Linked DNA regions of Homo sapiens: region 2 is linked to region 1. The links come from fine-mapping of genetic effects on plasma protein levels. Region 1 holds a variant in brackets. A gene starts in the other region. All regions are shown on their reverse strands. Region 1 overlaps TFEB (transcription factor EB). Region 2 holds the start of REG3A (regenerating family member 3 alpha).

What was found. A credible set is the group of variants that fine-mapping cannot tell apart. PIP is the posterior inclusion probability: the model's chance that the variant is causal. The UK Biobank Pharma Proteomics Project read protein levels with antibody pairs (Olink). The fine-mapping took linkage between variants from a reference panel, not from the people measured, so its PIPs are less certain.
Region 2: it holds the start of REG3A, and the variant in region 1 is the best candidate, but not a certain one, in a credible set for the plasma level of the REG3A protein (UK Biobank, PIP 0.73).

What each region holds. Positions count from the first base shown.
Region 1 is chr6:41,707,334-41,723,478 of GRCh38, reverse strand. The region is part of intron 1 of TFEB (transcription factor EB); the gene reads left to right. Among named protein-coding and RNA genes, the nearest start is that of MIR10398, 18 kb to the left of the region's middle. RefSeq lists enhancers at 6,587-6,646, 6,887-6,986, 7,097-7,146, 9,227-9,950, 9,951-10,676 and 3 more. The variant G/A (reference allele first, on the strand shown) is at 8,731.
Region 2 is chr2:79,144,355-79,160,499 of GRCh38, reverse strand. REG3A (regenerating family member 3 alpha) reads left to right here and starts at 747. Exons shown (of 6, transcript NM_002580.3): 1 at 747-772; 2 at 1,061-1,170; 3 at 1,731-1,849; 4 at 2,037-2,174; 5 at 2,802-2,928; 6 at 3,207-3,494. The coding sequence starts at 1,095. The coding sequence ends at 3,274.

The DNA of each region.
Region 1 (16,145 bases):
GGGGCTGCCCTCTCGAAGGTATGAGAGCACACGCGTGCATGTGTGTGAGTGTGTGCATGTGTGTGAGCATGTGTGTGAATGTGTGTCCATGTGTGTTAGCCTGTGTGCATCTGTGTGAGTGTATGTGCATGCGTGTGGTGTCTTTGGGGAGGTGGGTGGGTAGGGATGAGGCCCCTCAGGCTGCACTGGCATTGGGATGTCTTTGGGGAGGGGTGGGGGTCTCTGAGCATGGCCAAGGCTGGGGTGAGGGAAAGAATGGGGAAGAAGGTGGCCAAGCTCTGGAGTGCAGGTTGGACAGCGTGGGAAATCAGGAGTCAGCCAGAGTTGTGCTTCAGTTTCCTCATCTCTCCAGGCTTATTTCAAGGGTCGAGTGAGAAGGTCATGGGCAGGATGGGCTTAGCATGTCACTGGCCAGGCCACAGTGAATACCCATTTACATTAGGGGCTGGGAGCATATGCTCTACATCCACCTGCTTGAATCCTGGCCCTGTCGTTTTGCAGTTTCATGATGCTGGCAAGTTATCCTCCTCTGCTTCCTCATCTGTAACATGGAGATGACAGTTATAGTGCCCACCTTGTGAGTTCTGAAGAGTAAAAGACTTTACTCACATAAAGTGCTCAGAATAGAGCCAGCCTCCCACTAAGTGCCTGCACAGGTTAACACTTCACCAGGACATAGCATGTTTGTGTGCAGATGGCAAAAAACTGCCCAGGGCTCCTGACGATCATTTTTGATGGTGGAAGTTTGAGCTGGAACTGAGATTGATAGTAAGAGCTCATGTTTACCTGGCCTTATTCCATGTCAGGTACTGTGCCCAGTGATTCATCTGTACCAGCCCCTTCACCCTCAGTCACCCCATGAGGGGGATGCTGCTATCATTCCCATTTTGCAGATGGGGACATGTAGGCCCAGGGGCTAGAGTGACTTGCTCCAGGGCAGCTATATCAGTGAGGGAGAATGGCAGAATGGTCCACTCAGCCCACAGGTGGGCCCCTCACCCACACCCCTGCCCCTTTTCTGGGTTCCAATAGAAGTATGGGAGAGGAGGAGGATGGAGGGTCTGCTGGGAGGGGTGTGAGGGCTGGCCTTGCAGCCTGTGGGCTCTGGCCAGGGAGCCCTTTCTTTTCTCTGTGCCATCCCCAATTAAGTAATCAAAGTAACCCACAGCTATAAAGAGTTAAATTAATATAGCGAATGGAGCCAGGTGCGGTGGCTCACGCCTGTAATCCCAGCACTTTGGGAGGCCGAGGTGGGCGGGTCCCCTGAGGTCAGGAGTTTGAGACCAGCCTGGCCAACATGGTGAAACCCCGTCCCTACTAAAATACAAAAAATTAGCTGGGCATGGTGGCATGTGCCTGTAATCCCAGCTACTTGGGTGGCTGAAGCAGGAGAATCGCTTGAACCCAGGAGGCGAAGGGGTTCAATGAGCCTACATTGCACCACTGCACTCCAGCCTGAACGACGGAGGGAGACTCTGCCTTAATAATAATAATAATAATATAAGGAATGGTTTATTAGTAGTTGGAGTTGGAAGAGACTTCCTAGGAGAGTGAGCTCCCTGCCAGGGTGTAGTCTTGAGAGAGCAGTTGAAGGCCACTCATCTGTGGGCATGAGGGTGCAGTGGTTCTGAATCTGGCTTCAGATTCACACAGGCCTGGTTTTCAGCTCTGTCTGAGCCAGTTACTGTTTGGCCTCAGGCCTCAGTTTCACCACATTTAAAATGGGGGTGATAGCAGTTCCTATCTCCTAGGGTGATGGTGAGGATGAAATAAGACACCATAGTAAAATGCTTAGCACAGGTCTGGCCTGGAGTAAGTGTCTGACAGATGGATGCCATTATTAGGCGCCTGTTGTAGAGAGGGCCACGCGCCAGGCAGATAGTTGGGCTGCACAGATACTTTTGGAGGGAGGTTTTTCAAATTGTGGATCAGGGCCACTAATTGGACCCTAATTCAGCCATGAAATCAGTTTGGTGGGTCTCCATGAATTTTTTTTTAATGAAAAAGAAGAGACTAGAAAATATTCAAGTGTATTGCTCAGTATCAGTAAGCATTGTTGTGTAGAACATGTTTCGTGTGTGTGTGTGTGTGTGTGTGTGTGTGTGTATGTGTGCCTAGTGTCAAATAAAGTATATTTTTCTGTGAGCCATGGTCCAAAACTTTGGTGCCACTGCATTAGAGATTCTGTCCCTCCTGTGCCATGTTTATAGAGCACCTACTGAATATAAGGCGCAGCAGCAGTGCTATGGCCAGGGTGCCTGTCCTCAGCAAACCTCATGGTCTGACTGGAGAATCAGGGCCCAGTTCTTAGCAAGGTGGTTACCAAGACTGTGGGTCAGCAGAGGAGGGAGCAGAGTGGTCAGAGAGGGATTCCTGGGTGATGACCCTGTGTCAGGTGGGGACGATGAGAGGGGGTGATGCCTGGGGTGAATGGTTGGCCTGGGTCCTGGGGGCTGGGGCTGGGGGCTGGAGAGCTACCTGGAAAGGTGGGAGGCTGCCGTCAGTGGAAGGCTGCAGGGTCAGGCCTGGCAGGAGCTGCCCATGCTTGCTGGAGCAGGGGGTTGGGTGGAGGTTGGGGTCTCAGGATTATTCAAGAACATTACATTTATTGTGTACTTTATTTCTATGATTATTACATTGTAATATATGATGGAATAATTATATATGGGTGAGGGCTGTGCCAGTCTCCCTGGCTGGGGTGGGGTGGGGTAGAGAAGGACTCGGCCTTACTGATGCCCCCTCCCCCAGCTTGCAGGATCTGTAGTCACTATGGGTGAGACCCACGTGGGCCTGGCCTGCAACCTGGCTCTCAGCTTGAGCCCTATCCAGAAGCCAGAAGACTTCCCACTATTTAGATCCCTGCCCTGGGAAGTGCTTGGCCTAGTCAGGACCTCAGTTTCTCCATCTGTAAAGGAGGCACACTGTCTCCTGAGCGGCCAGCCTCCTGGGTGGTGATGCCCATCTTGTGACCTATTGTGGATGAACCGGCTGCAGGAAGTATGAAGAGCTCTGGGTGGGTTATGATTGTCGTCTTTAAGGCTGGGAGGACTGGGGAAGGTCATGAGGACATCAGCTGCCTGTCTGGAGAGCCCCTGGCCTCCCTACCCTGTGACCTAGGGCAGTGGGAGGAGAAGCCTGTGACCCATGGCAGGCTGGGGATATCCCCAGCTTTGAGTGCAGGCAGCCCAGTAGGGGCCTCAGATGATGAGACCCAGATCTGGCCTAAATCTGGGAACCCCCAACCTCTAAAGCTCCACTCTTCATTGAGTACCCCAGGAGTCCCAGCTTAAGGGGCTGTGGTGGCAGGTGGAGAGGCAGTAACCTAGGACTGATTGGCAGGGGCCAGTTTTCAGGAGGCTGTGGGTGGCTTCCAACCCACTGAGCACAGAGCCCAGAGGCTCAGGCATGAGCTCCCACAGTAGAATGTGGTGTTTAATGACAGGTCACATATATTGGCACTCCTGTGTGCCAGCGCTGTGCTAAGCACTTTTATATATTTGCAAACTTTATACAACAACCGAATGCAGGTCTTTTTATTATCCCATTTTACAGGGATAATAAAATGGGCCTCAGGAAGCTGAGGCCCAGAGAGGTTAAATCTCTCACCCAAGGTTACCTAGCTAGTAAATGGGAGAGCTGGCCTGAGGGCCTGAGTTCTGGATTCGGGATACTAGAGTTCAAATCTGGGTAGTGCCACTTTCTAGCTGTGGGTCCTCAAACAGTGACTGAATCTCTCTGACCATTGGTTTCTTCCTCTGTGCCTTCCTCAAAGGGTTGTTGTGAGAGCTATGTGAGATAAAGACTGAGAAGTACATAGTACACAATAAGGGCCGAATAAATGGGACCTGCCACATGACCTGCATGCCAGTAACTGCCGTGTGACCCTGGGCCGGGTGTCTGGCCTCCTAGGTCTCAGTCTCCTCAGTTGTGTGACACAGGGCACTGACCCCTTCCTTGCTCCTCTCAATAGGGTTGTTGAAGATGTTGGATGGGTCCTGAAGGAGACCTTCAGTGAAATAGAAGTGGTAGACCAGCGGTCCCCAACCTTTTTGGCACCAGGGACTGGTTTCGTGGAAGACAGTTTTTCCATGGATGGATGGCAGGGGAGGGTTTCAGGATCATTCAAGAGCATTACATTTATTGTGCACTTTATTTCTATTATTATTACATTGTAATATATGATGAAATAATTATACAACTCACCATAATGTACAATTGGTGGGAGCCCTGAGCTTGTTTTCCTGCCACTAGACGGTCCCATCTGGGGGTGATGGGAGACAGTGACAGGTCATCAGGCATTAGATTCTCCTAAGGAGCATGCAACCTAGATCCCTCACATGCACAATGCACAATAGGGTTTGCACTCCTATAAGAATCCAGTGCCACTGCTGATCTGACAGGAGGTGGAGCTCAGGTGGTAATGTGAGCAATGGGGAGTGGCTGCAAATATAGATGAAGCTTCGCTCACCTGCCTGCCTGCCCACCACTCACCTCCTGCTGTGTGGTCTGGTTCCTAACCGGCCATGGATTAGTATGGGTCTGTGGCCTGGGGACTGGGGACCCCTGTGCTAGACTACTTGAATCTCCAGAGCTGTCAGGAATTCTTTAGGGTTTGCAGCCAACCGCAGGTCCCAACGGATTGTGTTTGGGCCTGCTTCAGGCTTTCATGTTTCCTGTTGGCCCCTGCAGGCATTTGAGTTGGTGGCTCCAAATCTATTCCAGGGTTTCCCAAGATGTTTTCTGTGGAAAGGTTTAGAGGTCAAGCAGGCACAGGAGACTGTAAGTCAAAGAAAAAAAAAAAAAGAAAAATAGGGGTTGGGGGAATGGGGAGATGATAGTCAAAGGGTACAAAACCTCAAACAGGGGGCATAAGTTTTTTCCTTGAGATGTATTGTACGGCATGGTGAATATAGTAAATAGTAATTATTGTATATTTCAAAATCATTTAAGAGTTAATTTTAAATGTTCTAGGCTGGGTGTGGTGGCTCATGCTTGTAATACCAACACTTTGGGAGACTGAGGCGGGAGACTTCAGCCTAGGAGTTCAAGACCAGCCTGGGCAACATGGTGAAACCTGTTACTACAAACAAAAAAATACAAAAATTATCCGGGTGTGATGATGCATGCCTGTAGTCCCAGCTATGGGAGAGGCTGAGGTGGGACGATCAATTGAGCCTGGGAGGTTGAGGCTGCAGTGCGCTGTGATCATTCCACTGCACTCTAGCCTGGGTGACAGAGCGAGACCCTGTCTCCAAAAACAAACAAACAAACAAAATAAAACAACAAAAAAAAACACCCCCAAAATTCAAATGTTCTTACCACCCAAAATGACAAGTATTTGAGGTGATGTATATGTTAATTAACTTGATTTAATTATTCCACATGGTGCTCATAAATCATAGCATCACCTTGTACTCCATAAATATATACAACTACACAAAACCCCAAATGGTTTTCTTTGCTGTAGGGCTTGTCAGAGCCTGTGATATGCTAATTTTTGTTGTACATCTCCAATATGTGGTCATGATATATACTCTAGGGTATCTCAAAGGCCTGGTGTTTAAAGCCCCATTTTCCAGATAGAGAAACTAAGACCTGGAATGAAACTTAGGAAGGGATTTTCCCAGGTTATGCAGTTACCTGTTACAGAGCTAGGGCCAGACTCCTTGCTCCTGACTCCATGGCCAGTGCTCTGCCCAGGATACCTCTTCCTCTTCCTTCTTCCTTTGTCCTCAGAGAAGTGTTGTGTGTGCTGCTGTTTCCTCCTGAGAGCTCCTTACCTTTTTCTGGCCCCCTCCTGCTTGCTCCCAGCATTAGAGGGTGTCTGTTTCCTTCTGGGCATTGCTATGAGATGGAGCTATGCCTAGTTTATGGCTGCTGGGAGATCCTTCTCAGACTAATAGATGGCAATAAGGCTTCATCCCAGCTGCAGGGCCCCTAGCAAGTTAATTCCATTTCCTGAGCCTCATTCTCCTCAGTTGTGTAATGAAACTCATCATCTTGTCTGTCTTCTGGAGTTTTTGAGAAGTTCAGCTCTGATATCATACATGAACGTGCTCTACTAATTTTCAATCCATATGCAGATATCCATGAGTCTGACAGTTCTTATAATTTCTGGGGGCAGTGAGGACATGGGAAAAGGAGGCCCTGGCTGTGGGAGCTAGCATGGTTGGGGCCCTAAAGTTCTGATCCCCTCCCCCGGCCACAGTTGATGTCTGCTTTTCAGTGTACTGCTGCCTCTCTCTGCTCTCAGTTCCCCTGAACATGTCTGAAGTGGGCCGGTCTAGCTGACTCGAGGGACCCATGTCACAGGTGAGACATGAAATGAAGCACGATTTTCGAGCTGGGGGGCCCTATTTTCCTAGTTTCCTGCTGGGAGTTGGTGTTAGAGTGGGGAAACAACTCAAGTGACTTGGTGCCTCAGTACAGCTCTGCCTGGAGCAGGGAGTTCCCACCAGCTTCTGCCCAGTCCTTTGATGCCCCCACCCTTCATGGAGGGTGGCCGGTCACCTGGCTTGTGATGTAGGGTGCACGCGGGCATGCCGATGCCTCCATCAACACAGCAGTTAGGTTCGAAATGCTCCAGGTCCTCTGCTAGCTGTGGGGGACTCTGAGTGATGGGCCAGGGGGTAGGCCAGGCTGGGTTGTGAGGTGGGAGGAGGTGGTGGCTCCCTGTCAGAGAGTGTCCTCTCCTGGAGGGCTGTTTGCCCAAGTTATTCTTAGCACAGACTCATTATAGAGTCTATTTTTAGCCCTGTTTCTAAGTGTTGCCAACATCTGGTGCAGCCAGCACTAAAGGGGGTGGGGGTGGCAGGGGCTACTCCTTTGGACATTTCTGGGGACTGGAGCCTCTGGCAGGAGAGCAAGGACAGAATCTTCTACTTCCTGCACCTGCCACAGCTTGAAGCTTGGCATGCAGTAGGTGTCCTATTCATGCTTGTGCGTTGATTGCTCTCCCAGGATCTCATCCTTCCAGCTCTAGCTCCTGTGAGTGGGTGGGTGGTGGGGATGGTGTTACCACAGCTGGAGAGGATGAGCTGAAGGTGCTCATCAGATAGGTTTCCCACATCCACCCCTCAGGGGTCCAGTTGGCCTCAGACCCCTGCAGAGAGGCCTCAGAGGAGGGAGGCAAGCCCCAAACTATGGTGCTTGTGACAGCTACCGCTGAAGGAGGAGCCAGCAGACATTATAGGGAGGGGGTGTACCACTGGGGTGAGACTGCCTGGGGTTGAATCCTAGCTCGGCTCTTTCCTAGCTGTGTAAACTTGGGCAACTCATCAACCTCTGTATGCCTCAGTTTCCTCCTCTGTGAGATGGAGATGGGAGTGTAGTGTTGTGAGGATTAAGTAAGATAATACTGTATGAACTGCCTAAATAGAAAGTGCTGTATAATAGAGAGGTGGTGGTATTAGTAGCAGTGGTAGTGCTATATTACTGAGAAGCTCCGTATGTGACATCCTGTTGGGGTGAGTTGGGTAGGAGACCTCTCAGCTTTTCTTTGAGTGAGATGAGGCTTGCAGTGGGGCTCAGAGGAAGTTGTTATAGCCAGGCACCACGACAGTGGTGATGTCTGCAAGGCTGCAGTGGGGGTCAAGAGCTATGTGCTGGGTTGGAATCTGGGCTTTGCCACTCACAGGTTGGGTGACCTTGGATGAGTCACTTAATCTTCCTGAACGCCCACTTCTTTATATACAAGAAAGAAATGATAATACCTGGGTCATAGGCGTGATGTACGTGGAGCTTTTTGCCCTGTACTGGGAGCATGGGAGGACCTGAATCCGTGAGACTTTTTTTTTTTTTTTCTTAATTGAGACAGATTCTCGCTCTGTCGCCCAGGCTGGAGTGCAGTAGCGTGATCTCGGCTCACTGCAAGCTCCGCCTCCTGGGTTCAAGCGATTCTCCTGCCTCAGTCTCCCGAGTAGCTGGGATTACAGGCATCCGCCACCACACCCGGCTAATTTTTGTAATTTTAGTAGAGATGGGGTTTCACCATGTTGGTCAAGCTGGTCTCGAACTCCCGACCTCAGGTGATCCACCCGCCTCAGCCTCCCAAAGTGCTAGGATGACAGGTGTCAGCCACTGCGCCCGGCTCATGAGACTTTTTTGGGAGTGGGGGTGTTGCTGTGTCCCTTTCCCATGTGGAGGATGGGGTCCTGTTGTCTTGAGAGTCTTGGGAAACAGCTTGGCCTGGAAGTTGGGAGGGCCAGGGCTGTGGTCCTAGCTCTCCCTAAGCTGTGTGGTCCGCACATACTCCCTGCTTCCTCCAGACTTCCGCAACATGGAGAGGCCAGAGAAAACTGTGGTTTTCAGATTCTTCGTCACAGTCCCAGAAGGTGCCTTGGGTACTATCTGGGAGCGTGGGGGAGGCCCTGGTTGGAGGCCAGGTGGGGTGGTCCTCCCACTCCCCATGCTGCTCTCCTGCTCCTCACACTGACTCCTGGTGCTCCATGGAGCGGCTTCATCCTCATGTTTTACATATCAAGGGTCCAGGCCGACTTTGTCTGAAAATGGGAGTGCTGCTGCTAACATCAACCTGGGACTTTCTGGTAGGTGACTCCCAGGCTCCTTGTCGTCTGACATTTTGTGCCCTCTGACTTGGCATGGACTCCCGGAGGAGTGCCAACCTGTATATCAGGGTCTGGAGTGCTGTGGTCACTGGATTCCCTGAGGGCTGGAGTCCCTTGGGGTGTGGAGGGCAGAGGAGGCTGCCTCCAGGGCCTCTCTGGGGCC[G/A]GGCCGCCACTCAAGGGTAGAGCTTCCAGCGCTGCCCCAGTCTCCCCGCACCCTCGGGATGGGGGTCCCCTGAAGACAATAGTCCGTCTCAGAAGCAGTGTCTCACAGGAGGGAGGGGTGATATGGGCAGAAAGGCCCTGCCAGAGTGCTGGCATGTAGTAAGTGCTCAAGAAATATTTGAAATGAATGAATGGAATGATACCATCAAGGCCGCACCTCTGATCTGGTGATGAATTTTCCCTCGCCTCCCTTTTCTTCCTTCTCGCCCCTGCTCCCTCTTCCCCATCCTCTGCTTTGTCTGACTAGCCATAAGCTACCCCAGCCTGGGTTCCAGATTCAGCCTTATTCATAATCTAGAACAAAGACACTTCCCCAATGTGAGTTACAGTTTGTTCATCTGGAAAACAAACACGATGGGCTCAGGTTCCGAAGGCCCTTTGGTTCTCACCGTCTCTTTTCTCAGGGCATGGGAGTGATTTCTCAGAGTAGGGGTGGTAGAAGCACATGCATACACACACGCACACACACAGACACGCACGCACATGCACGCACATGCATGCACATGCACACACACGCACACATGCACACGCATGCACATGCACACACACGCACACATGCACACGCACACACACACACACGTGCACACACACACGCACACACAGGACTCAGTGCAGTGGTCTTGGCTGGGAAAGGTCCTTGCCCTCTGACCAGGAAGGAGCCCTCGGAGCTGAGGTGCTCCCAGACTCAGCACTGTTTGGGGCCTACAGGATGTGGTGTGGCCCACTCTAGCTCAGGCTGGGGGGTTCCTGTGGGTGTCAGGGGATGGGTGGCCATCCAACTGTGTCCACTGGGCTGGGCTGCCACAGTGACTTTGTGTATGACCTTCAGGGAGTGTGGGTGGCATGCATCAGGACGCCTATCTGTGTCGTTATGACTGGGCGTGAGGGAGGGTGCCACATGTCTAGCCAGCCAGGGAGCAGGGCCAGTTAGCTCCTGTTCCTGGGTGCCTCCTGGCTCTGGGGAGAATAGAAAATGATTCATGCAAAGGGGCCCTCCCTGTTTTGGCCACAGCCTGAGGAGTAAGGTGGCCTGGCTGTCTGCCTTTCCCTGCTGCCCACCAGGTGCCTGAGTTCTCCCCTCCTTCCTCGCCTCAGACCGCGTTTCTCCCTGGGGGTAGGTGGCTGCCCTTCCCTGCAGCCTGACACCCTCTCAGAGACAATTAGAGGAGTAGGCTGCCCATGCCTACAGCTATAAGAGTGAGTCAGCGTAGGGACCGGAGGGGATCAAGTCTCTCTGAATCCTGCGGCCAGACGGTCCCTGCACCAGAAGAAGTGGCCCAGTGAGGCCTGGGCTGGGATGCTGTGGTCAGCACTGATACCAGCTGAGTGGCTTTCCAGCTTGAGAAGACCTGCCAGGGACAGGAGAGGACAAGCTCCACCTGCCCACCACCCGCCTCGCCATCCTGGCTGCAGCCAGCTGGTGACTCATTCTCCTGGGGAGTGAGCCAGCTCCTCTCCTGGGGTACCCCAGCACCCTGGTGCAGGCTGGGTGGCCAGGAGTCCTGGGTGCCTCAGAAAACCTGTGCTGAGCCCAGGGCCCTGGTAAGCTGGGGAGGGAGGACTGAGGCCCTCTGTATGGGGTGGGGGTCGCAGCCAGACTTCTCTTGCTCCTTCTCCTGGCCCCCGCAGACTTCACCCTCCCTCTGGCCAAAGAGGAGGCTGCAACCCCAGATTACGTAATAGGTCCAAAATGCCTCGCAAGCGAGCAGCCCAGCCAGTGGCTAGACTCAGGAGTCCCCATTTCCCAGTACCTGCCACCAGAGCAAGTTCCCATTCCCTTCCTAGGCCGGGTGGGGGAGTGGGTGGTGCTTGCTCACCCCTGGAAAGAGCTGTGCTGCCTGGGAGGGGGTGGGGAGGCTTTCTCCAGAGACATGAATTCTTGGCCTGACCCCAGATGCCAGCCTGCCTGCCCAGCTCCACTCCAGAGTAACGCTGGGTGCACACACAGCCCCATTGTGTGCCTGGGCCCCGTGCCTGCCCAGGGCCTGGCACCGGCTCTATCAACAGCAGTGGCTCCGTCAGCTCCTCAGCAGCCCCTGCCAGTGCTTGAGCCCTTGGGCCCCTGGTGAGGAGGAAGAGGGAGGACTAGTGATTAAGGGTATGAGTCCTGGGTGGGGTACCAGGACCTTTTGGATACTATCAACTATGAGAGACAAGAGCAGGGAGACTTAGTCCTGTTCTCCGAGGAGGAAACTGAGGCCCTGAGAGGCTTCAGTAACTTGCCCAAGGCCTCATGGCTAGTGAGAAGCAGAGCCGGGGTTGGAGCCCAGAGCTGTGGCTGAGCCCCTTACTGGTCTCGTCACCCAATCCCAGACCAGGACTCAGGAAAAGGCACGGTGCCCTCTTTCCACAGCCCCACTTTGGGGAGCCTCTTTCTCGAAAATATATGTCCCCAGGGTAGAAGAGGACCCTGAGACGGTAGGATCTGGAGTCCTGTAGGACCCTGGAATGGTAGGATTTGGAGTCCTGTGTGCTTGTGAGAAACATGGGGGTTCATTTTCAAGGATGGTGCTGGTGGCCAGACAGGCAGAGCAGGTTTCCAGAGCTGGAGGACAGGCTCTGTGCCTCAGTTTCCCTGCTCTACCTGCACTGTACATCCACTGTGCCTTCTAGGAGGGGATAGAAATATTGAGGTGAGGTATGGCCGGGGCTGGGGACTGGACCCCCACTGCTGAGCTCTATAGGCTGTGCGAAGCCCCCTTCACCAACCCAGAACCCCACTCAATGCCTCATGATGGTTCTATTCTAAGTTGGGTCTGAGCCATCCACCTCCTCAGCTTTCCCAGCCTGAAGAGGCCTCTGAGCTGGGTGAGCCTGCCAAGGGGGCAGCCCAGCTCGGTGCCATGAGGGCCCTGCCTCTGCCGCAGGCCCATGTTCCCCCACCCCCCTGCCAAGGTGAGGGTGCCCAGACATGACCCTTTTGGGGCCTGCCCTGTGTTTTACTTTCCAGGCTAGGCTTATTCACTCAGAGAGGCTTGACCCCCTGGGGCTTGGGGGAGCTGAAGGGCTCCTCCCTTCTCCAACAGCCCACCCTTTTGTTCCCCTGTCTGTCTTGGGCATGAAGCCTGGCTCCCTCCTTCTACACCACCTCAGCGCTCTTAGCAAAGGGACAGGGAATTCTGCAGTGACTGCAGGATTGTGAAATGCCAGGGCTGGACCTTGGGGACAGGCAGGGAAGAGAGATGCTGGAAGGGGACACCGAGACTGTGTCCTTTCATACCCCACCTGGGAGGCCAGTCTCCTCCATTCTGCTGGCGCTCATTTTCCTGCATGTATACCATTCCCACCCACCAGTCAGCACACCTTCACCTAAGGCCACAGCGGTGGGGACGTTGAGCCCAGAGGGCCATGTCCGAGTGTCCTCTACCTGGAGCCTGTGTGGGAGAGGAGGAAACCAAGGGACAGCCCTCAAGGAGTTCACACTGCAGCTGAGAAAACCAGAGAGGTGACTTCTTTGTACCTGTTTCTCATTTGTAAAATGAGTACAGTAGTATTTCCTACTTCCTAGTGTTATTGGGAAGGCCAAATGAATTAATACATGATAAAGCCAAGGGCCTGGCACTGGCTCTATCACGGCTTTAGAAGCCATCCTTGATAGATGGTTTTACAACTCAATACAAGTTTTAGTATTATCCATAGTGGTAGAAGAAATACAATATATGCTATCAGGTGATGATGTTTTTTCCAAGCTGGATTGTAAAAACCATAGGGCAAGGGCTGTCTTATTCATCCTTGTATTCCTGTTTCAGACACAGAACCAGGCTTGGAACAGAGTAAGTAATTGTGCCCAAATGGTGATTAGAGGTGGGTGAAGTCAGGGTGTGCTGTCGGGAGGAGGAGGAGACCCTGGAGCAGGGCTTCCAGAGAGGAGGAGAAGTTGGATAATCTGTGGGAGAGGAACTGGGGGAGGGTCTGGGGGCCCAGATTGGGTTGGCGTGAGAGAGCAAGGAGGTCCCCTTGGCTGCACCCAGTGTTTGTTTAGGGAGAGGGATCCTGCATGCTTTGGAGGCCCAACTAGAGCGCTTGGACTTTATCTGGTAGGTAGTGGAGAGCAATTGGGGGTGATGGAGCAGGAAAAAAATGGTCTTTCTATGTTGCTCCATCTGTTTCATTTTGTTTTTGCTCCCTTGTTCTCTGAGGAATATTTTCTTTCTTCATTTCTCCAAAGACAATAAATCCTCTCTGCTCTTCAGCCTCTTCTTTCTGATCCGTAGTTACCCCTGTCCCAAATCCCTGCATTCTGTTCTTGGCTTCTTCTCCTTGGCCATCCTGGCCTGTTGTCCCTGCTGTGCTTTTACCTGGCTTCCCCTTCCTTTATCTGGTCCCTGACCCACCTTCTCTGGAATAGGAGTTGGGTGGAGTTGGACTTGCTGAGAGATGGGTACTGGCATGGCATGACCACATGGTGGGAGCTGGTATGAAGGCAACTGAGCCAGGAGGATATCCTCTATTCTGATGTAACTCTATACATCCTTCAGGGAATGACTCTGCCCCAGTTATGTGGCTAAGGCCCATTAGAAGGATCTTACTTTATATTTGTCAACCTGTTTAATGAAAATGTAGATTTCCAAAATAGATAAATTAGGGAGTGATGGAATCTTATTTTCTCGTTTATAAATTTAGTGGAAAGATCAGCACTTTGGGAGGCTGAGGCAGGAGAATCGCTTGAGGCCAGGAGTTCAAGACTAGCCTGGGCAACATAATGAGACCCCCATCTCTACAAAAAATAAACAAATTAGTGGGGGCATAGTGGCACACACTTGTGGTCTCAACTACTTGGGAGGCTGAGGTGGGAGGATCGTTTGAGCCTGGAAGGGTGAAGCTGCAGTGAGATGTGGTTGCGCCACTGCACTCCAGCCTGGATGACAGAGTGAGACCCTGTCTCAAAAATAAAAATAAAAAATAAATTTAATGGAAAGGGATATTGAACCAGATGGGAACGATGCAGACAACTAGTGCCTTTTTCATCTCCTTTTAAACATCCATCCATCTATCCATGCATACATCTATCCATTATATCCACCTTTTCATCCATTATATCCATCCATCCATCCATCCACCCACCATTATATCCACCTTTTCATCTGTCCACCCGTCCATTTAGGCATGCATCCATTATATCCATCCATCCATCCATCCATCCATCCATCCATCCATCCACCAACCATTATATCTACTTTTTCATGCATCCACCCATCCATTTATGCATGCATCCATTATGTCCATCCATCCATTATATACATGCATCCATCTAATATTTATTGAGCACCTATCCTGTGCCAGGTACTGCATTAGATACTTTATGTTTAATCCTTACAGAAATTCTCCAGGGTGGATATTGTCCTAATTTTACACATGAGGATACTGCGACCCTGGGAATTTAAGTAAGTTGATGAAGGTCACACAGCTAGAAAGTGACAGATCTGGGATTCAGCTTGACTAGGTTCAAAACACACACTCTTAGTGTTTAATCAAATGGCCTCTGTTGGTGTCACCAGTGCCTAGTTCTAAGTGCGGAACATAATAGCTGTGTTATTGAATGAACAGGCATGCCAAGGTTCTGGAATGCTGGAGCTCTATAGCTCTATCCTAGGAGCAGCCTGGGGGCAGAAGGCAATGCTGGGCTTCTAGTCCTACTGGCATTTGCTACCAGCAACCTAATGTTGCCATCACTACCCCCGGTATGGAGGTTTCTTCTCCATGCAACTTGCAACTCTGGCAAGTCCTGTTTTCTTCTCTCTACCATCCCAGCTCTCCTTCTGAGGGCAGTCTTAACCTTCCGCCAAGTGGGGAAGTTCCAAGTACACATTTGGCCATTGCATCCAGCTTGACCAGTCTCCCCAGTGACTGGTCTTCCCCTAGCTCACACCTGCCTCTCTCCTTCCCTGTAGGGTGGGCTAGCTTGCATTACTCTGACCCTTTTATTGGCCCCTATTTCTAAGCTTTAGAGTTAGCTATTCAGTATCAGGTCATAACTGCCTCCTCAGGGCCCATTGGGTGAGGCAAGGATATGAGTGCAAACAGTTTATTTGGGAGGCTCCCCCAGGGAGCACCAGTGGTAGAGTAGGATTCATGAGACAGGAAGGCAAGGAAGCTGATAAAATGTGTGTGAAGGAGCAAGGTGACTGTGGGCATCTGAGGCTCACTGCCATTGGAGGCCTCTGCAGAATATGCTTTAGAGTTCCCCAGTCAAGTGATAGGTGTCTTTGGCTAAGAGGTGGTGGGGAAGGGAGGGAGCTAACTTCATTGGTTCAGGCACCAATTCAGGTGCTGGCACCTGGAAATCTTCAGGTGGGCACTTTTGACATCGTGAGGGCCCAGAGCATGTGGCTGGGGCCCTGATAGCTTTTGCCACCTCATCAAGCCCAGCCCTGGGGGTCTGCCAAGCCCTCTTCCCACATCTCCCTTTCTATGTCCAAGAGGCTTCCCCAGGCAGACCCTTCCCCAGTCGCCAGTTCCACGCTCACTGTGTTTCACAGATACTTAGGGAGCATCTACAAGGTGCCATGGACAAAAAGAGGAAGCTGTCAGGATGCCTCCAGGCACTCACAGCAGAGGAAGGTGACCTGTGCGGCTGAGGCGCCTGCCATGTGGCAGACACTGGCTCGCCCATCCCAGGCCTTGTGCAAGGCCAGCAATGCCCCTGTGGCATGGCATCCTCTCCTAGAGGGAGGTACAGACGTGCTGAGCGCCACAGAGCCTAGAGCCGTCTTCCACTTCCCTCCCAACTCTAGCATCCTGAGGCTGTGATTGTAGTGGTTTTTCTGACTTCCTTTTCCTTTCTGTCACTGCGCCTGCCTCTTCCCCTAGCCCCATGGCCGCCACGTGGCTGCCTTTTAGTCAGCCGGGAACTGAGCCTCCTAGTAGCCTCCCTCTGTGTCTCTGTCAGGAACAGGATACAATTCAGGGACATTTTGGTGGGGGAGTAATTTCGTGCGGTGGCATACCTGTTTGCCCTGGCACAGGCTCTGTCATGTCTGCTTCTTGGAGAGGAGCCTTCTTCCCCTGGGCTCCACCTGTTCCCATCCCCAGCCCTCCCAGCTTCAGGCTACAGGTCTCGCACCCTATAGGGCTGAGGGAATGGGAAGAATTAAAAGAGGGAAGTGGCGTGTAGGTAAGGCCTTCTGGGGTGGGGGCTAGGGGAAGGGCAGGAGATGGGGATGGGGCAGGGGCTGGGCCTGGCGGTGTGCTTCCCCTGGAGACGTGGTCCTGGGCCACAGGCAGGCACGCCAAGTCACAGCCCCTCTGACTTCTTCCTCCAGCCACCAGCCCCAGCCTTTCCCCTTGATGTTTCATTTCCAAACCAGGTCTGCTCTGGGTGCGTGTGCTGGGGTGGCAGGGGTAGGAGTGTGTCTG
Region 2 (16,145 bases), not on the chromosome of region 1:
TGATTTTACACAATGGCTGCTCTTCCCTTCTTTAACTATTATTCATTCTTCTTTGATCCTCATTATTTGACTGTAGTCCTTCTTATGTCTTGTTTTCCTTCATTACCTCTTATTCTATCACATTGCCATTGTCATTCTCCACTGGGGAAGCTCTTTCTTGCTGAAGACTGGAAAGACAAGTCCATTCACCTGATTTTCTGTAAGATTGTGGCTCATGTATTGACTTGTCAGACAATTCTGAAGTTTCATCAAAATTAGCTATCATGCTTGCATAATGGCCCTGAACCCTCACTCCTACTCTTAGCTTCAGTACCATCTATGTCCTCAACTGTCCATGATACTTATAATTCCCGTAAATCTTCACTTAACACCTAACATTTATTTAATCTTACTAGGCAAGGTAATAAGAAATACATAGGTTTGCCTCCAGAAGTGGGTTCTTAAGAAACCCACCAGAGGAACTCCTCTTTCAGATGTCCACATTAGAAGATTTCATATCACATTTGGTGCCACAGGCCTTTGACAAGGAGGATGCAGAGGAAAAAGCAAACTTCACCTCTTCCTAGGGAAAGTGTTGGCCTGCCAACAGGAAAGAGGCAACATCTGGGAAAATCCCCAGTCTTTGCCAGGAAGAGTCCATGCCAACCCCACCCCATGACCCCTGTCCTGCCTACTCATTGTCACTCTTCACTCCAATGTCCCTCCCCCAGATCCTCTTATAAAATCCCACTCTTTCCTGACCAGACAAACCATACCATATCCCACCAGAGAGGTAAGTGGGAGCTGAGAGAAGATGAGACCCAGGGAGGAGCTACTGCACATGACACAGGAGAATACATGGGAGGGTCCCTTCCTCAGGGAGCACAGGAACTCTGAGACTCAGCAAGGGTGTCCTGGGAGGGCTCGGGGATGGGAGAGTACACAGATTCACAACTCATTCAGAACTGTAGAAGATGATGGATGTGACCAAGATCACTTTAGTCCTAGGGGACTAGAGAAGGAAAATGACATGAGGCAGTGGGGTATCTGTGTGTTCTCCCACTGACCACGCTTTCTTTAGTGACTCCTGATTGCCTCCTCAAGTCGCAGACACTATGCTGCCTCCCATGGCCCTGCCCAGTGTATCTTGGATGCTGCTTTCCTGCCTCATGCTGCTGTCTCAGGTTCAAGGTGAGATTGCTTTGCCTCTAGCACTGGGTTCCCTATGAATCCTCAGAGCTAACAAGAGGAGGAAGGCTCCTGTGTGTCATGTGAGGTAATGACGTGGTGTCTAATGAACCTGCCTGCAGTTCTTGCATCATCTCTCCTTCCTTCAGGTTAACTTGCAGTGGGAGGCTCCATGGTGGTCCACTAACAGTGGAATGAGATGGCTTCCATTTAGTCAGTGGACTCTAATATACACTGGTGGGAAAGTGGACTCTAATATACACTGGAGGGTCAGTAATGAGATGTGGGGAGGGACAATGATTGGAGGACCCAATGTAGAGACAGCCCAGAGTGAGGAGAGTATTGAATGGTTGAATAAGGGGAAAGGGTAATAAGAGACTGGATGGTGCTCCATTTACTACGGCTATTTTGAGATAAAGAATTTCTGAAAACATAAGGGAAGATGAAGGGGTGTCAGGAATGTGGTCTTCCTCCCCAAGGACATTCCTAGGTATTCCCCAAGGTCATCTCCCACCCCAAGCCCCACTCTTCATTTTACCCTCCCCCCTCTTCTTCCACCTCAGGTGAAGAACCCCAGAGGGAACTGCCCTCTGCACGGATCCGCTGTCCCAAAGGCTCCAAGGCCTATGGCTCCCACTGCTATGCCTTGTTTTTGTCACCAAAATCCTGGACAGATGCAGATGTGAGTGGTTAGATGTGGTGTTGGAGGTGACCGGTCTCAGGGGGAGGAGGGTCTCCATTCAGGAGAGTTCCTTGGGAATGAGGATGAACACGTTTATCTTTCACACAGTCCTCCTCCCACCTACCTTTGCCCTGCCCTCCCTCAGCAGGTCTCAGGCTCCCTCTCATTCTCTTTGTTGCCCTCAAAGCTGGCCTGCCAGAAGCGGCCCTCTGGAAACCTGGTGTCTGTGCTCAGTGGGGCTGAGGGATCCTTCGTGTCCTCCCTGGTGAAGAGCATTGGTAACAGCTACTCATACGTCTGGATTGGGCTCCATGACCCCACACAGGTGCCAGTATATCCTCCCCTCTCTGTTACCTCTCAAGGTGCTATTGTTGCCCAGGCCCACTCCCTGTCCCCTGTGCCTGCCCAGGAAGTACTTCAGGGAGCACTGGAGCTCAGATTCTGGGGAATATTTGGGGGGAAAGGGAAGGCCATGAAGCATCTGAAGATCTGAGTTCTGTGGAGGTCTCTATCTTTCAGATAAAATCAATCTGCCTTCCTCAGGCGTATTACATAATTCTCATATGAGGCTGGGTTAACAATTCTCTGAGCTTCATGGAGTCTTTGCCTACTATTCTGAAGGAACTCTTAATGAAGATAGGATCAATTTTTGTCCCCATACAGAACTGACATTACTTTTGAGGTTCACAAGCTAATCACAAATGCTACATCAATTATTGTTCTGCAAATAATATATTACCTTGAGTTGTTCCAAAGGTCTTATGTTTATTGGCTGGAATTTTCCAATAGCAATGAGGAGTCAAGGAAGAGTTTCCTACTCACCGGCAGCATCTGGAATAGCAGACCAACTTTCCTCATGCTGGGGAGCAAATCAGGTGTTGCAGCTAAGGGGCCATGCAAGAAGAGCTGCAATGGCCATTCCCTTCACCTGGCTACCTCCTCTACTCTACAGGGCACCGAGCCCAATGGAGAAGGTTGGGAGTGGAGTAGCAGTGATGTGATGAATTACTTTGCATGGGAGAGAAATCCCTCCACCATCTCAAGCCCCGGCCACTGTGCGAGCCTGTCGAGAAGCACAGGTAAGAAACAGAGGAGCTGCCTCTTCCCAGTGTTTTCCATCTCATCCCCCATTCCTGGGTCTGACCTTCAGGAAATCTTCCTGAGCTAGAAAATACAATGTTAGTGTGTCTTCTCTTATCTCCTCTCTTCTCCACTTTCTTTGAATCTCTCTCCTGGATTGGGACACTGGTGAAGGTGAGGGAGAGGCTTTAACTTCTAGGCTAAAACCTGGGATGCCCCTTCATTGGATTCACAAGCTTCCTCAGCCCCATTCCATTTATGTCTTCTGTCTCTCCAGCATTTCTGAGGTGGAAAGATTATAACTGTAATGTGAGGTTACCCTATGTCTGCAAGTTCACTGACTAGTGCAGGAGGGAAGTCAGCAGCCTGTGTTTGGTGTGCAACTCATCATGGGCATGAGACCAGTGTGAGGACTCACCCTGGAAGAGAATATTCGCTTAATTCCCCCAACCTGACCACCTCATTCTTATCTTTCTTCTGTTTCTTCCTCCCCGCTGTCATTTCAGTCTCTTCATTTTGTCATACGGCCTAAGGCTTTAAAGAGCAATAAAATTTTTAGTCTGCACTTGTTTGTCTTGTATATGCCAGTGTCATAGCCATACTCTGAGAAGGACAAAGTGTTTGAGTGGAGGAAACTTTATGGGTCTTGCTTCTTCCCTATTCACCCAGGCCTCTAGGGAAAATGATGAAGTGTGCATCCCTACCAGTGTGTTATGATGAGGGTGTGGGTCCTGCTCATGTAGGATTTGTGTTGTGGAGAGATGAGGACATTTCTCTCCCGCGTACTTACTGCCCTCCCATTCCCGTAGCCCAAACCTGACAGTGTGACATGAACAGATTTAGGAGGCTCTGATGGTGCTTAGAATAGTACTTCTCAGAGAATGGCATCAGCAGGATGGTAGATAGGACTTTCCAGCTCTTGAACCTTCACAGAAACATTCATTTGAACTACTACCCATTAAAATGGAAATACCTTCACAAGAGCTAACAATCCCAAGTGAGTGATTAAAGCATCTGAATGTTGCAAAAAATAAGAAAGGATGCATCGAAGAGGGTAGAAAGAAGACTTTTACATTATTTATATCACCCCTCCATCAATCTCAGTAAGCACAGCATGGAGAGACATTCCCTAAACTTGGGGAAAGAGAGTGAAATAAGCACTTGAGTTTTCCATGGACCCTAACACTAGGTTTGCCTCAGTAAGACCCAGTGGCCTCTGACTCCAGGCAGACACCCTTGGACTTAGACTCCAGGCTGCCTTGATGCCAGGCCAGGCTCTGTGGCCCCAGGCTCTGTGACCCCAGGCTCCAGGTCAGCCCCCATGACTGCAGCCTCCAGTCTTGCCCCAGAAGATGCAGGCTCTAGACACACACAGCATCATGCTTTTCCCCATAGCTCCAGACCACAGGCCAGCACCCACTGACAAAGACTCTAAGCCCACCTCAAGGACAAGCTAGCACTTGCAGCCACAGACTCCAGGGTGACCCCTGAAATCCTAGACATCAGGCCTGCCCATGTGGACCTGCCCTTCAGACCCACCACAGCTCCAGGATAGCTCCCACAGCTACAACTTCAGGCCAGCACTTGCAGACCCCAGCTCCAGACTGACACTCACAGTCGCAGGATACGGTCCTGTCAAATCCCAAACCCTCCCCAAGCCTTTAGGTCCATCTGAGCACAAAGCCCTGATGCTAGGCCAGCCTCTGTGGCCTCTGTCACTAGGCCAGCCCCCACAGACACAAGTTCTGGATTTTCCCAGTTCCAGGCGAGGCTCTGTGGACTCGGTACTAGTCTGGCCTCATACTCCAGCAGACCCAGGATCAAGCTTCATTACAGTAGACCTTAGCACCAGGCCAGCCCCCCCGACTCAGGCTCCAGCCTTAGCCCCATGAATCCAGTCTCCAGACTTACCCCAGAGGCAAGTTGACATTCATGGTCCCAGGCTACAGGCCACCCCCACTAACCCTGGCTCCATACCAGCCCCTGTAGTTTCAGGTACCAGCCCAGTATGCACAGACTCAAACTCCAGACCTGTCCTAGAGACTCAGATACTACATCTGTCCTAGTGCCTGGCTAACCCCTGAAGACATGGGTTCAAGGCCTGCTTTAGAGCCAGATTGGTCTCCAGGAAGTAGGATTTAGTCTGGCTCCTGTGATTAGAGGCTTCGGGCCTGCCCTCATGAAGTGACTGCCTACCCTGGTATACCAAGTCAATAGGTCCACTTGAGGATGCCAGCAGCAAGCCTGCCCAAAGACCAAGCCAGATGGCCTGCCCAGAATCTCTGGATGACTGACTGGTGAAGGGCTTTGTCTGCTAAAGCCAGTCTGTAAAAACTGGAATAAGTGACTACTTGTTCAAAAAGTCAAACACCAAAGACACATGACCACAAGTATCATAAACAATCAAGGAAATATGATATTACCAACAGAACAAAATAAAGGACTAGTAACTGACCTTAAGGGGAAAGAATTTTACAAACTGCTCAACAAATAATTTAAAGCAATTGTCTAAAAGAAACTCAGTGAGCTACAAGAGAATACAGATAGACAACTAAATGAAATCAGAAAAACAATATGTGAACAAAATCAGAAGGTCAAGAAAGAGATTTGTTTTAAAGTTAAAAAAAAACACATAGTGGCTGAACTGAAGAAATGCATGGAGAATTTCAACAGCAGACTTGATCAAGCAGCAGAAAAAGTCAGTGAGTTTGAGACAAGTCATTTGAAATTATCCAGTCAGAGAAACAAAAAGAAAAAAGAAACAAAAAGAGAAAATAAAGCTTAAGGAAACTATGGTACATGATCAACTGAGCCAATATATATATTATGGGTTTTCTAGAAGGAGCAGAGGCAGAAAATGGGCAGAAAACATATATAAAAAATAATGGGTCATGGGGTTTGGCATCCCCATGCCTGTCAGTGCCTCACCCCAGCCAACGAGCATGCACCCAGCCATGCTGCCACTGCCGTGGCATGAGCACAGATCCCACTGCTATCACCCTGACAGAGTACTGTGGTCACTGCCACTTACTGGAGTGTTGTGGCCAGCAATCCAGGAACACCTTTGGACCCCCAGCACAGCAGGTTCCTAACTTCGAGGGGTGAGAGAACAAAGCTAGGGGCCTGATAATAGCATTCCAGAATTGGGGAATGCTGAGCTGAACCTTGGCCCACTGACATCTTCCAGAAATGAAGTGAGTCAACTGAGCCCACCTTATACCACAATCAAACCCCCAAGGGCATCAAAAAGGATAAACACACACACACACACACACACACACACACACACACAATCCATCCAAAAAACAGCAACTTCAAAGATTAAAGGAACGCCAGCCCACACAGATGAGAAAGAACCAGTGCAAGAACTCTGGCAACTCCAAAAGCCAGCGTCTATTTTTACCTCCAAACAATTACACTAGTTATCCAGCAATGGTTCCTAACCAGTCTGAAATATCTGAAATGACAGAAATAGATCTTGGAATATGGATAGGAACCAAGATTATTGAGCTTCAGGCAAAAGTGAAAATCCATTTCCAGGATTCTATACAATAAAACGATACAGAAAATGAAAGATGAAATGGTCATTTTAAGAAAGAACCAAACTGATCTGATAGAGGTGAAAAACTCATTTCAAAAATTTCAGAATACAATCACAAGTATTAACAGCAGAATTGATCAAGCTGAGGAAAGAATCTCAGATCTCAAAGACAGTTCTCTGAAATAACTTAGACACATATTAGAAATTAAAAAAAGATTGAAGAAAATTAAACAAAACCTCTGAAAATTATGGTATTATGTAAAGAGACCAAATTTATGACTCATTGAAAGCAAGCAATTTGGAAAACATATTTCAAAATATCATCCATGAAAACTTCCCCAACCTCCTTGGAGAGGGCAAACTTTAAATTCAGGAAATGCAGAGAACCCCTGTGAGACTACACAAGATAACCATCCCCAAGCCACACAGTCATCAGACTCTCCAAGGCTGAAATGAAAGAAAAAAATGTTAAAGGTAGCTAGAGAGAAGGGGTAGATCACTTACAAAGGGAACCTCATCAGGCTAACAGCAGTGTTGTCAGCAGAAATCCTACAAGCCAGAAGAGATTGGGGCCCTATATTCAGCATTCTTAAGGCAAAGAAATCCTAAACAAGAATTTCATATCCAGGAAAACTAAGCTTCATAAGCTAAGGAGAAATAAGATCCTTTTCAGATAATCAAATGCTAAAGGAATTTATTACCTCCAGACCTGCCTTACAAAATAACCTAAAAAGAGTGCTAAATACAGAAAGGAGTGACCATTACTGGCTACTACAAAAACATACTTAAGTACATAGACCAGTGACACTATAAAGCAACCACACAAACAAGTCTTCATAATAACTAGCTAACAACATGATGACAGGATCAAATCTGCATACATCAATACTAACCTTGAATGTAAATGGGCTAAATGCCCCAATTAAAAGGTACAGAGTGGCAAGTTGGAAAACAAGCATGACATAATGGTATGCCCCTCTCATATGCAATGACCCATCTCACATGCAATGACACTACTAGACTCAAAGTAAAGGGATGGAGAAAAATCTACCATGCAAACAAAAAACAGAAAAAAAAAGCCAGGTTTGCTATACCAATTTCAGACAAAACAGACTGTAAACCAAGAGATTTTTGAAAGACAAGGGCATTATGCAGTGGTAAAGGGCTCCATTCAAATGAAGACCTAACTATCCTAAATATATACATACCCAATACAGGAGCACCCAGATTTATAAAGCAAGTTCTTAGAGACCTACAAAGAGAATTAGATAACCACACAATCAGAGTAGAGACTTCAATACTCCACTGGCAGTATTAGACAGATCATCGAAGCAGAAAACTAACGATGATATTCAGGACCTGAACTCAACACTTGACCATATCTAGTAGACATCTACAGAACTCCTCACTCTCAAACAATAGAATACACATTTTTCTCATTGGCACATAGCACATTCTCTAAAATTGACCACACAATTGAGCATAAAACAATCCTCAGCAAGCTCAAAAAAACAACAACATAAAAACAAAAACAGAAATCATACCAACCACACTCTTTGATCGACCACAGTGCAATAACAATAGAAATCCCTACTAAAAAATCACCTGAAACCATACAATTACATGGAAATTAAACAGCCTGCTCCTGAATGACTTTGAGGTAAATAATGAAATTAAGGTAGGCATAAAGAAATTCTTTGAAATGAATGAGAACAAAGATGCAACATATCAGAACCTCCCACACACAGCTAAAGCAGTGTTAAGAGGGAAGTTTATAGCACTAAACACCCACATCAAGAAGTTAGACAGATCTCAAGTTAACAATCTAACATCACACTTAGAGGAATTAGACAAGTGAGAACAAACCAACTCCAAAGCTAGCAGATACAAGAAATAACCAAAATCCGACCTGAGCTGAAGGAAACTGAGATGTGAAAATCATACAGAAGATCAACAAATCCATGAATATGTCATTTAAAAGAATAAATATGACTGATACAACACTGGCTAGACTGACACAGAAAAAAGATAAGATCCAAATAAACACAATCAGAAATGACAAAGGGGACATTACCACTGACACCACAGGAAAAACAAGCAAACAAGCAAACAAACAAACAAAAACCCTCGACGACTACTTTGAACACCACTGTGCATACAAGTTGAAAGACCTAGAAGAAACGGTTTAATTCTTGGAAGCATATAACCTCCCAAGATTGAACCAGGAAGAAATTGAATCCCTGAACAGACCAATAATGAGTTCTGAAATTAAATCATTAATAAAATACCTACCAACCAGAGAAAGCCCAGGGCAGGATAGATTTTCTGCCAAATTCTGTGAGATGTATAAAGAAGAGCAGAAGACACCATTCTTACTAAAACTATTCCAAAAAATTGAGGAGGGGAGACTCCTTCCTAACTCATTCTATGAGGCCAACATTGTCCTGATATGAAAATCTGACAAAGACACAACAACAACAAAAAATCCAACTTCAGGCCAATATCCTTGATGAACATTGATGCAAAAATCCTTAACAAAATACTAGCCAACTAAATCCAGCAACACACCAAAAAGCCACAATCAACTAGGCTTTAGAATGTGAGGTTGGTTCAACATATCTAAATCAATAAATTGATTTATCACATAAACAGAACCAAAAACAAAAAACACATCATCATATCTATATATGCAGGAAAGGCTTTAGACAAAATTAAACATCTCTTTGTGTTTAAACCCTAAACAAAGTAGGCATTGAAGGAATATCCTTTAGAACCTTAAGCGCCATCTATGACAAACCCATAGAAAACATCGTACTGAATGGACAAAAACTGGATGCATTCCCCTTGAAAACTGAAATAAGACAAGAAAGTCCTCTCTCCCCATTTCTATTCTACATATTACTGAAAGTCCTGGCCAAAACAATCAGGCAATAGAAGGAAATAAATGGCATCCAGATAGGGTGAGAGAAAGTCAAACTATCCCTGTTTGCATATGATACTATTCTATATCTAGAAAACCCCATTATCTCAGCCCAAAAGCTCCTTCAGCTGATGAACAACTTCAGCAAAGTTTCAGGATACAAAATCAATGAAAGAAAATCACTAGGATTCCTATATAACAACAATATCCCAGCAGAGAGACAAATCAAGAACACAATCCCATTCACAATAGTTATAAGAAGAATAAAATGCCTAAGAATACAGATAAGCAGGGCGACAAAAGAACTCTACAAGGAGAATTATCAAACACTGCTCAAAAAAATCAGAGATGACACAAACAAATGAAAAAACATTCCAGGCTCATTGATAGGAAAAATCAATATTGTTAAAATGGCCATACTGCCCAAGGCAATTTATAGATTTAATGTTATTCATAAGAAACTACCGGAAACTTTCTTCACAGAATTAGAAAAACTATTTTAAACTTTATATGGAACAAAAAAGCCCGAATAGTCAAGGCATTCCTAAGCAAAAAGGACAAAGCTGAAGGCATCACATTGCCCAACTTCAAATTATACTAGAAGGCTACAGTAACCCAAACTGCATGGTACTAGTACAAAAAGAGACAGATAGACCAAAGGAACAGAATAGAAATCCCAGAAATAATGCTACATACCTACAAACATCTGATCTTCAACAAAGTTGACAAAAATAAGCAGTGGGAAAAGGACTTCCTATTCAATAAATGGTGCTGGGATAACTGGATAGTCATATGTAGATGATTGAAACTGGACCCCTTCTTTATACTATTTTAAAAGGTAAACTCAAGATGGATTAAAGAGTCAAATGTAAAACTATAAAATCCTGGAAGATAACCTAGGAAATGCCCTTCTGGACATAGGATCTTGCAAAGATTTCATGATGAAGATGCCAAAAGCAATTGCAACAAAAACAAAAATTGACAAATGGGATCTAATTAAAGAAAAGAGCTTCTAAACAACAAAAGAAATTATCAAAAGAGTAAACAGACAACCTACAGAATGGGAGAAAACATTTGCAAACTATGCATCTGACATAGTTTGGTCTAATATCCAGAATCTACAAAAATCTTAAATTAGCAAGCAAAAACTGAACAACTGCATTAAAACGTGTGCAAAGGACATGAACAGACACTTTTCGAAAGAAGATATACACACAGCCAAGAAGCATATAAATATGCTCAAAATCACTAATCATCAGATAAATGAAAATTAATACCACAGTGAGATGCCATCTCACACCAGTCAGCATGGCTGTTTTTAAAAAGTCAAAAAATAACAGATGCTAGCAAGGTTGCAGAGAATAGGCTATGTTTATACACTTCTGGTAGGAATGTAAATTAGTTCAGCCACTGTGGAAAGCAGTTTGGAAATTTATCAGATAAGTTAAAACAGAACTACTATTTGACCCAGCAATGCTATTATGGGGCATATACCAAAAGGAATATAAATCATTCTAACATAAAGATATATGCATATATATGTTCATTACACTGTTATTCACATAGCAAAGACATGGAATCAACCTAAATGCCCATCAACAGTAGGCTAAATAAAGCGAATGTGGTACATATACACAGTGGAATACTACATAGCCATAAAAAACAATAAAATCATGTTTGCAGCAACATGGATGGAGCTGGAGGCCATGATCCTCCACCAACTAACACAGGAACAGAAAACCAAATACTGTATGTTATCACTTATAAGTGAGAGCTAAAGTTTGACTACAGATGGCCACCAAGAAGAAGAAAACACACACTGGAACCTACTTGAGGATGAGGGGTGAAATGAGAGCAAGGACTGGAAAAGCACCTATTGGATATTAAGCTTATTACCTGGATGAAAAAATAATCTATACACCAAACCACTGTGACATACAATTTACCTATATAACAGACTGGCACATGTACTCTTGAACCTGAAATAAAAGATTTTAAAAAAAGAAAGAAAAAAATGGTTGTGAAAAACTTCCCATAACTGGTGAGAAAAAGGAACATCTACATCCATGAAGTACAAAAAACTCCACATACATTAAATATAAAGACATCTTCACTGAGACACATTACAATCAAATTCCAAAAAGTCAGGGATGAAAAGAAAATTTTCAATGCAGCGAAAGAAAAATAACATATTATGTGCAAGCGAATGTCTATAAGATTATCAGTTGATTTTTCAGAAGGTACCTTTCAGGGCAGGAGAGAGTGGGATAATATATTCAACATACTCAATGAAAAAACAAAACAAAACAAAACCCTGCAAACCAAGAACACTATACCTGGCAATCCTATCCTTCAGAAACGATGAAAAGAGAGGAAGTTTACCAGAAAAACAAAAGCTGAGAGAGTTCATTAACACTAGACCTTCTTTATGTAAAAGACTAAAAGAATTTCTTCAAGATGGAAGATAAAAATGCTAGCTGATACCATAAAAACACAGGAAAGTATAAAGTATAAATTGACTATGTTAAGTACATAGTAAAATTTGAAATACTCTAACATTGTAGTGATGGTTGGTAAATCACTTAAATCTTTAGCATAAAAGACAAAACTATTAAAAACAACAGTAACTACAATAATTGTTAAGGAATATGCAATAAAGAAACATGTAAATTGTGACACCAATAACAAGAATGTGCAAACAACAGCAAAAGTGTAAAATATTTTTATGTGATCAAGTTATCTTTTTAAAATAGTCTATTATAAATATATTTTTGTAAGCTTTATGGTAACCACAAAGCAAAGACCTATAATAGATAAATAATAAGAAGCAAGCAACCAAAGTATACCACAAGAGAAAATTATCTAGTCAAAAAGAAGAGAGAAAGAGAGGAAGAAAGAAACAAAGGACCTACAAAACAACCAGGGAACAATGAACAAAATGGCAGTAGTAAGTAATTACTTATTAATGATTATTCAAAAAGTAAATGAGTAAAATTCTCCAGTCAAATGGTATAGAGTGATCAAATGAATTTAAAAAAATACCAACACACAACTTAATGTTCCTACAAGAAACTTACTTTAGCTTTAAGAACACACATAGGCTGCATGTGAAAGAATTAAGATATTTCATGCAAATGATACCAAAATAAAACAGTGGTAGCTATAGTTATATTACATAAAATAGACTTTAAGTTAAAAACTTTAAAGAGAGGCAAAGGTCATTATATAATAATAAAGAAGTCAATTCAGCAAGAGGATATAATAATTTTAAATATGTGTGTACACATCATTGGAGCCCATAAATATATAAAGCAAATATCAATAGATCTGAAGAGAGAGAAAAATTGTAATACAATATTTGTTGGATAATTCAGTACCCACTTTCAACAATGGGCAGGTCATTCAGACAGAAAAAAATTCAATAAACAGCGGACTTGAACTACACTTCAGACAAATGGACCTGACAGACATACAGAACATTTCTTCCAACAAGAGCATAATAAACATTCTTCTCAAGTGCACATGGGACATGCTTCTGGAGAGATCATATATTTGGCCATAAACATAGGCTCAACAAATTTTAAACGACTGAAATCATATCAAGTATAATTTTCACCCAAAATAGTACAATACTAGAAATCAATAAAAAGAGAAAGATTGGAAAATATTCAAATATGTAGAAATTAAATGACATTATCCTAAGCAACCAGTGGACCAGAGAAGAAATTAAAAGTGAGATTAGTGGTGGGATCCAGCAGTCCCACTACTGGGTATCCAGCCACATACAAAAATGATTATATATCAAAAAAACACCAGCATGCATGTGTTTATTGTAGCATAATTCACAATTGCAAAGATATGTGCCCATCAACCAAAGATGGATAAAGAAAATGTAGCATACATATATATACATATACATATACAGACACACACAGACATATACCATATATATATACACACACACACATATATACCATGGAATAATGGTAATTGACTAGCCATAAAAAAGAACAAAATAATGTATTTTGCAGAAACTTGGTTGGAACTGGAGGCTGTCACTCTAGGTGAAGTAACTCAGGAATGAAAAACCAAATATTGCATGTTCTCACTTAAAATTGGGAGCCAAGCTGTGGGAACCCAAAGGCACACAGAGTGATAAAATAAACATTGGAGACTCAGGGTGGGGAGGGGAATGAGTGATGAAAAACTACCCATTGAGTACACTACTCGAGGTAGAGTACTGGAGTGATGCGTGCACTAAAATCTTAGACTTCACCACTATATAATTCATCCATGTAAGCGAAAGCCAATTGTACCACTAAAGCTACTGAAATAAAAAATTAAATTAGTATTAGAAAAATATTTTGAGACAAATGAAAACGAATATACAACATACTAAACTTATGGTATGTAGCAAAAGCAGTCCTAAAAGGGAATTTTATAGCAATAAATGCTTACATTAAAAATAAAGATCTCAAATAAACAACTTGACTGTACACCTTGAGAAACTAGAAGAAAAAATAAGCCAATATTTTGTAGAAGTAAAGAAATAATAAAGATTAGAGCAGAAATAAATGAAATAAAGACTAGAAAAAGAATAGAAAAGATCGAGAATGAGAGTTGTTTTTTTTTGAAAAGGTGAATTAAATTAACAAACTTTTAGCCAGACTAAGAAAATAGAAGACCCAAATAAAATGAAGATGAGAAAGGAGACATTACAACTTAAACCACAGAAATTCAAAGGATCATTAAAGAGTATTATAAGCAACTAAGTATCTTATTGATACATATTGGAAAACCTAGAATAAATTGATAGATTTCTAGACACAGAACCAAACAAGATTGAACCATGGAGAAATCTAAAATATACATAGATCAATGGCAAGTAATAAGATGTAATTAGTAATAAAAAGTCTTCCATCAAAGGAAAGCCCAGAATGGGACGGCTTCAAGTCTGAATTCTATTTAAAGAATTAATACCAATCTTTCTCAAACTCTTCCAAAAAATTAACTAGGAGGGAATACTTCTAAACTCATTTTATGAGACCAGTATTACTCTGACACCAAAGCCAGAGAAAGACACTACAAGAAAATAAAACTAAAGACAAATATCCTTGATGAAATAAGATGCAAAAATCCTCAACAAAATACTAGTAAACTATTTTCAACAGCACATTAAAATGATCAAGTGGGATTCATCCCTGGGATGCAAGAATGGTTCAACATATGCAAATCAATAAATAATTTGCAACATTTATTGATTATTACTAAATAATAATAAATTACATTTATTATTGTTACTAAAATGAAGGACAAAAAAGATTATCCAATAGATGCAGAAAAAGCAATTGACAACATTCAGCCTTATTTTATATTTAAAAAAAACTGTCAGAAAATTAGATATAAAAGGAACGTACTGGCCGGATGCAGTGGCTCATGCCTGTAATCCCAGCACTTTGGGAGGCCGAGGGGGGCAGATCACCTGAGATCAGGGTTCAAGACCAGCCTGGCCAACAGGGTGAAACTCTGTCTCTACTAAAAATACAAAAAATAGCCGGCCCTGGTGGCAGGCTCCTGTAATCCCAGTTACTTAGGAGGCTGAGGCAGGATAATCGGTTGAACCCAGGAGGCAAAGTTTTCAGTGAGCTGAGATTGCGCCATTGCACTCCAGCCTGAGTGACAAGAGTGAAACTCTGTCTTAAAATAAAGGAATGTACCTCAACGCAATAAAGACCATATGCAACAAGCCTCCAGCTCTCAACATACTCAATGGTGAAAAGTCAGTTTTCCCTCTAAGATCTGGAACAAGACAAGCATGCCCACTCTCACCACTTCTCTTCAACATAGCACTCAAAGTCCTACCCAGAGCAATTAGACAAGAGAAACAAGCAAAAGCATTGAAACTGGAAAGGAAGAAGTTACATTCTCTCTTTTTGTGAATGACATGATCTTACATTTAGAAAACCCTACAGACTACATTAAAAAATACTATTAGAAGTAATAAAATAATTTGATAAGGTTTCAGGTTACTAAATAAACATACAAAAATTAGTAGCATTTTTACACTAACCATAAACTCTCCTAAAGGAAATCAAGAAAACAACCATATTTCCAGTAACTACAAAAATACTTAGGAATAAATTTAACCAAAGAAGTAAAAGATCAGTGCAATAAAAATAATAAAACTGGTATCAAAGAAATTGAATAAAACACAAATAAATGAAACTTATCCCATGTTCATAGACTGGATAAGTTAATATTGTTAAAGTCTTCATACTACCCAAAGCAATCTACAGTTTCAATGCAATTCCTGTTGAATTTCTAATAACATTTTTCACAAAAGTAGGAAAAATAATCTTAAAATTGAGATAGACCCACAAAAGACCCCAGATATTCACAGCAATCTTGAGCCAAAAGAATAATGCTGGAAACATCATACAACCTGATTTCAAAATATACTACAAAACTATATTAATCAAGACAGCATTGTAGTAGCATAAAAACAAATCCATAGACCAATGGAGCAAAATAGCCCAGAAATAAATTCACATATTTACAGTCAATGGAGTTTTTAAAGATGCCAAGAATAGATAATGTTGATAAACAGTTTCTTCAATAAATGGTGTTGTGAAAGCTTAACGTGCATACATAAAATAATAAAATTAGACGCTTATCTCATACTGTACAGAAAAATAAACTCAAAATGGGTAAAGACTTGAACATAAGACTGGGAACTCTAAAACTACTACAAGAAA